2 separate regions of the Homo sapiens genome follow, and region 2 is linked to region 1. Evidence: fine-mapped expression QTL. A gene starts in region 1. The other region holds a variant in brackets. All regions are shown on one strand. Distances are between the middles of the regions.

Region 1 (2,910 bases):
AGGTAGAAACGTTGTATTTATCTAAAAGCATTGTATAAAAACATCGTATTTGTCTTTCCCCAATTTTAATAGGGCAGCTATCTAATCTCACACTGATATCCCAGACTTTAGTGCACTGAGCCACTCTCACACAGGATCAAGCTAGAAGTGAGAAGATCTGGTCCGATTCTGCCACAAGATGCTGTGTGTCTTAGGGCACGTTGCCCAGCCTCTCTGACACCCTGTTTCCTTGTCTAAGCTGGGGCTGTGAGTGTTCACAGCCTTTTGAGTCTGCACATGCTCTAATTGAAGTCATGCTATAGACAAGGATCATGTGCCCTCACAGTCTTGTTTTTCAGCACTCAAAAGTCATGCTTCTATGATCATGAATTAGGTTCAGAAAGTGACAGAGTAAGTAGTCACAGGAATGTAAAGAGCCCTACCCCACTGAATCAATTGTGACTAAAACACTTTGGAATATAAACTTCTACAATACACACGTATAAGACATAATTACAAAAAAAAAAAAAAAAACAACAACAACTTGGGGGAAGAGTTAGTTGACCATATGAAAACTAGGGTGGACCTGTGAGGCCACATACCTGCTGTTCTCCTCAGACGGGGAAGTGTTTCAGGGTGGGGCGCCTAGGCAGTCTACTCTTAGGGCTGTGTAATATTAAACCCAGAAAATGTCTGGGTTGCTCTGTCAACAAATATTTATTGGTAGCCACTATATGCCGGGCCCTGTGCTAGGTATTGGGGGCCTGTAGGTGAACCCTACGGACAGACCCATTCTTTCACGGAGCTAACATTCTCGTGGGGAAAAGAGGTAATAAACAATTCTAATGATGAATCAGCGATAGAGGATAAAGGGAATCTGTGAGGGAAGAGGGGACATAAACGCTGGGAGGCTGGAAGAGCCCCTTACGTGTTATCCACTTGTCCAGACGCCATATTCATAGTTGAGAAAGATGAGGCAGAGACGGTAGTGACCGGCTTGAGCCTAGACTGCGCCAAGCTTGCCAGAGCAGAGCCGGGTGGAAACTGTCTTCCTGCAAAGCCAGGTTTTCCTTCACGGCCCCTCCTAATGATGTTTCTTTTCCTATCATTGTCGAGCCCTTAGAACCCCAGGATCGAGGGAGGGAAAACAAGCGCTCAAGCACTCCCTCGTTGGTCCCAGGACACAAGGCCTCGTCCATCTCACAAGGCCTCGTCCATCTCCCATCACACCCTAGGGCCCAGGCAGAAGCCCGGCGGGGCGGGGCCTCGGACACGCGCCGGTGCGTCCAGCAGGTGGCAGCAGCGAGCGGCCGCGCCCCCTGCGCTGCCAACCCGCGAGCCCGCATCATGGATGTCGAGCTCCCCTATTTCGCATTGCTAGCCCTGGAATTCGAGACCCCAGACGAGGACCAGGATTCATGAAATCAGTCGCAGGGGCCGGGGCAGGGGCCTCTGGCTCCCGACACTGGCCGAGAGGTGGGTTCCGGGGCGGGTCGCTGCTCCTTGAAGCCGGGCGGGGACGCGCTGCCCCCGCCCTGCCTCCCTGTGGTCCACACCCCCTTTGGGCTCCGGAGCCGCTGGGCAGGAATAGTCCGGGGTGCGCGCGAGCAGGCGCTGCCAACCCCACTTCTGCCCGGGATTCCAATCTGAGGAGCAGGAGGACCGGGGCGCCGGTGTCCTGCCGCCTCCTTCTCCTTGCTCTCACCTGCGCCTATTAGTCCACGCGCCTTCAAGGCCAGGGGCTACAGCCCAGACAGAGAGGGGACAGCAGAGGGAGAGAGAGCACCTGAGGATACAGAGCTGGCACTGGACTGCCTTTTCACCCCCCAGGTGATGAGTGAGGTTCGAAGAACGGAAGATTTAAAAAGCAGCCGGGGCCTCCGTATTGAATGAAAGACCCAGTGCAAAGACATCACCATGAACACTAGCAGTAAGTGGATCCTCCTCTCCTTTGCCATGGGAACAGGGGTGGGGGCGGGAGGTGAGGGAGCCTGCGCTCGGGCTGCCTGGAAAGAGGAAGGAAGCCTGGCATCTCTGGACACATGACCCCCAGGCTCTTTTTTGGTGCTTTCCGTGCTCCTTGGCAGAGGGATAGCTTCATGACTCTGGCTTTTCGTGATAATTTTGCCAATATTTTATCAGCGGCGCCGGCCGCCTCTCCTGGGAAGGCTGCTCGTCTCCTTCTAGCACTGCCTGGGAAGGCCTAGGAAGCAGTGTGTGGCCATTGTCTGACTGTGGGGGCTCTGAGGAGAACTCCCTGCACACATCTGGAAAACCATGGAGGGCCCTGCCTGTCCCAGAGGTGGGAAGAGCAGGGAGGCTGGCCTGTGGGCAGGCGGGAGGGTAGGTGGGTGTGGGCAGGCAGTGGGCTGGGAAGCCGCAGTTTGATAAACAAATAATCGCCAAGCCACCTTTGGGTCTGGAGATTGTGAAAGATCCAGCTCCCGAGTGCCTGCAGCCCGGTGGGCCCAGGGCTGGTTTCTCTATGTACCTGCAGGCTGGTTAGCTATCCTTGAGAACAAGAAGACAGGAACAGCCCTTTGGCCAAGGGCTCTAACATGCCAGAGGCAACAACTGCTTGCAGAGCCAGGACCAGATATTTTGCTGCCAGGTAGGGCCTCAGCTACTGAGAATGCAGTCCGAAATTCAAGAAGGCACAGTCTGTTTCTCTTCAATGTAGCGCTGTGACCTGGGAGGGCATATCTTGGTTCCAGACTCACTCTCCTGCCCTCTTGTCAGCTTGGCCTGTCTAGGTTATTCCAGCATCGCATAGGGCTGTTGAACCAGAGAACCCCTATGAACAGTCACTTCCCTGGGTCTATGACTTTGTTATCAGTCCCCTCTCTGCATCTCAGACTGCTCATCTGTATGATGAGAGGGGTTGAATTAGAAAGCCTTCTAATCGGCCAGGCACCGTGTTCCATGCCTGTA
Region 2 (2,910 bases), 80 kb after region 1:
GTAATTGCAGGGCATTCAAGGACCTGCCTGAAAGGATGCTAAGTGATCCTGGAATGAGGGGGACCAGGCCAAGCAGTGCTAGAGTCACGCTCACTTGGGCTGTGAGTGTCTTGTGGGGGTTCTGCTACCACTGAGATCTGGGCCTTGGACACCCTCACCAAGTGGGGACACCAGGATTCAATATGATATCCCCCAGAATTGGCAAGAAAACCCTGCTCCTGGGTAGCTCAGGAGTGTAAAGAAGTGGCTGAGAGCCAGGACTCCCGGGTTCAAGCGTCAGCAATTCCACTAATAGGCTGTGACCTTGAGAAGTGGCTTCCTTCTCTGGATCTCTTGCTTCACCTGTAAAATGAGGATAACATCATCGTCTTTCATTGATCCACTCAAACTGGGGGCCACGCTATGTGCCAGGCTCTCTGCTACATGTTGGGCATTCAGAGATGAGTGAGGCAAGCATGCTTGCTGTCCTGGTGGAGTTCACTCTCTGGAAAGAGAAACCAACAGTGCCAAATAGAAGTGTAAACATTCAATGACAAGCTGTGACAAGTGCTGCACAGAGAAAGTTTTGAACAATGGGCATGTGTTATAAAGCCCCTGCTCTAGTCTGGGAAGCCAGGGAAGGTGCCCCTAAAAAGGGATATTTCAAGCCAAGACCTTGAAAATGAGTAGGAGGTGGGAGGCTGAAAAGGGCAGGAAGATTGAGGAGGCAGTGAGAACAGTGAGTGCAAAGGCCCTCCCTGGGTGGGTGGAAGCAGAACGAGGTGGAGAAACTGAGGCAGGCCCACTTACCTGGCACACAGAGAGCAACCATATGCCACAAGGTCCTCATGAACATTAGAGGAGAGAGTGAATGTGAAGGCACTGGGGACTCCATAAAGCAACTTATATAAGAGAGAGAGAGTGTTGGGATGCCTGCAAAGCTTACAAACCCAGCCTTGTCAGTTCTGGAGCTGGACACAGCATGGTACTGGCAAATGGTCCTTGGGAGATTCTTTGGGTGAGTTTGTTTGTGTTTTAATTGCTATGTGATGGCTTTCTGATGGGCTCTAATTGGGAGAAGTCTGACGTCTGTCTGGAGGAGAACTTCTGGGGCCCCAGGAGACAAGAGCAAGTTTTATTTGTTTTAAGTTCTGTTGTGTATTCAATCTTTTAACTGTGTTTGTAAAGATGCCAAATATCTAATCTGTTTGTTATCCAAACCCTTCATTTGGGCTTCACCAGGAA[A/G]TTAGGTCACTCATTTTGTGCAGCAAAATAATGGCCAAAATGCTGCAGGTTCAGGGCAAAACTTATACTGAAATCCCAAAGGTTGCAGTTACTAGATCAGTGAGAGTTTTTTTAAAATCCCAAATGTGGTTCATGAGACAAATTTTGCTCTTGTTCTAAATGTGCCTGTACCCAGGAAAAGGGAGAAAATAGACTCTTCTTCTACCCTTCTGTCTACACCAAATACCCTCCTGTTCTAAGACCTGAGACAATAACCCTGGAATTACGTAAGTTCAGCTGCACATTTTAAAACAATTCGCTGTTATCATTTGTATATTTAACTAAAACCCACAAGGCAGGAAATCATTTATAAAATACTGGACAAACCTCACTCTGCTAAAGAAAAGTATTATAACAAATTATAGGTCTCACCAATAATAATGATAATAATAAAAATATTAATAATAATAAAATGCCATCATTTTATTATTATTATTAATAATATAATTATTATTTGTTGGTATACTTTGAGCATTTACTATGTGCCAAGTACTGTACTAAGAGTTTGAAACACAGTATCCCATTTTATCCTCACGACAACCCTGTCAGCTAAAAACTATTAATGTCCTCATTTTAGAGGATGAGAATGAAAGTTTCAAGAGCATACGCCACTTAGCCAAAGTGGGCCTGTCTTGCTAGGGTTCTTGGAGGCAATTTTCTTACATCTATATTACCAGAATTCTTAAACTGGTTCATGGTCAGCCTTTTGAACTCTATGAGTCTTCTGAAATTGCTTGCTAAATTTTGCATGCTAGGTGTGTTTCTTTAGGCAGAGGGTCCATAGCTTTCATCAGATTTTCAGAGGTGTCCATGGGCCAAAATAAAGTGAAGAGACTTGGTTCTGTGTTAACACAAATCCGAAACGGAGTCTCAAAAGCTTGTTTTGATAATTACACCAAACCCCAAACCCTTCTCTTGTGTAACTGAATCTATTTCAGATTACTTTTTTTTTTTTTTTTTTTTTTTTAGCTCAGAGGATACAAGGTCCTGGTTTCAGGAGCTGTGTATTTCTGGCATGGCTGGGTTGTAACTCAGAAAAGGTGCACTAAGCTGAGAGATGTTCAAGTGAGGGCCTCCCATTGTTATGGGTTGTGGAACGCCAGCCCTCAGTCATCATCTACGCATTTCATGAAACCACCCTCTAAAAGGCACTACTGTAGTATTGGTTGCTATAATTTCGTAGTTTAGCATTATTACTTTAAATTGGATCTCTCTACTGACAGCTTAGGTTGTAGGAGTTATGCTTAAAAACTTTAAATCTTATGTTTCCCCAATCCTACTACCTAATTTTAGATTTTTCAGACATATTCTGTTACTGTACTAAATTGATACTTCCTGAAGTCTGACTCTACTAAGCATATTTCATTTTAAATAGAGTATATTTTAATTTTTGGCGAGCTGCCATTTTTTTTTTTATTTAGATTTTAAGGGTTACCAAGCATCTTGAATCATATAGAAAGTATTACAGTGTAGTAGCTTAAGGTTTGTATTTCTAAAGTTTGTTTCCAGCTTCTCCTCTCAGGTCACCACAGACTCATGCCGATGTGGCCATTTTCTCGCCTGTCACATGTCACATCGACTTCAGCAGTCAATTTGTCCATGTTGGTCAGAATTAGGTCTAGAGTAGCAATTTCCCGGCTTACTTCC

Alleles and levels. Positions count from the first base shown, and alleles are read on the strand shown. Sizes are in standard deviations (SD) of each study's normalised expression.
For the expression in putamen of the gene that starts at base 1,294 in region 1, allele A in region 2 goes with a higher level than allele G (moderate effect, 0.55 SD a copy in GTEx).

The links. PIP is the estimated chance that this variant, and not a neighbour inherited with it, causes the effect.
Region 2: its variant is fine-mapped to the expression of ABLIM3 in putamen (GTEx, PIP 0.90).

The regions. Positions count from the first base shown.
Region 1 is chr5:149,140,200-149,143,109 of GRCh38, forward strand. It overlaps ABLIM3 (actin binding LIM protein family member 3), which reads left to right and starts at 1,294. Exons shown (of 24, transcript NM_014945.5): 1 at 1,294-1,455; 2 at 1,810-1,909. The coding sequence starts at 1,897. LOC124901102 (a long non-coding RNA gene) reads left to right here and starts at 1,917. Exons shown (of 2, transcript XR_007058988.1): 1 at 1,917-2,590. RefSeq lists a silencer at 1,160-1,409 and enhancers at 1,715-2,216, 2,217-2,716.
Region 2 is chr5:149,220,456-149,223,365 of GRCh38, forward strand. All of the region lies in intron 8 of ABLIM3 (actin binding LIM protein family member 3), which reads left to right. Among named protein-coding and RNA genes, the nearest start is that of AFAP1L1, 50 kb to the right of the region's middle. The variant A/G (reference allele first, on the strand shown) is at 1,225.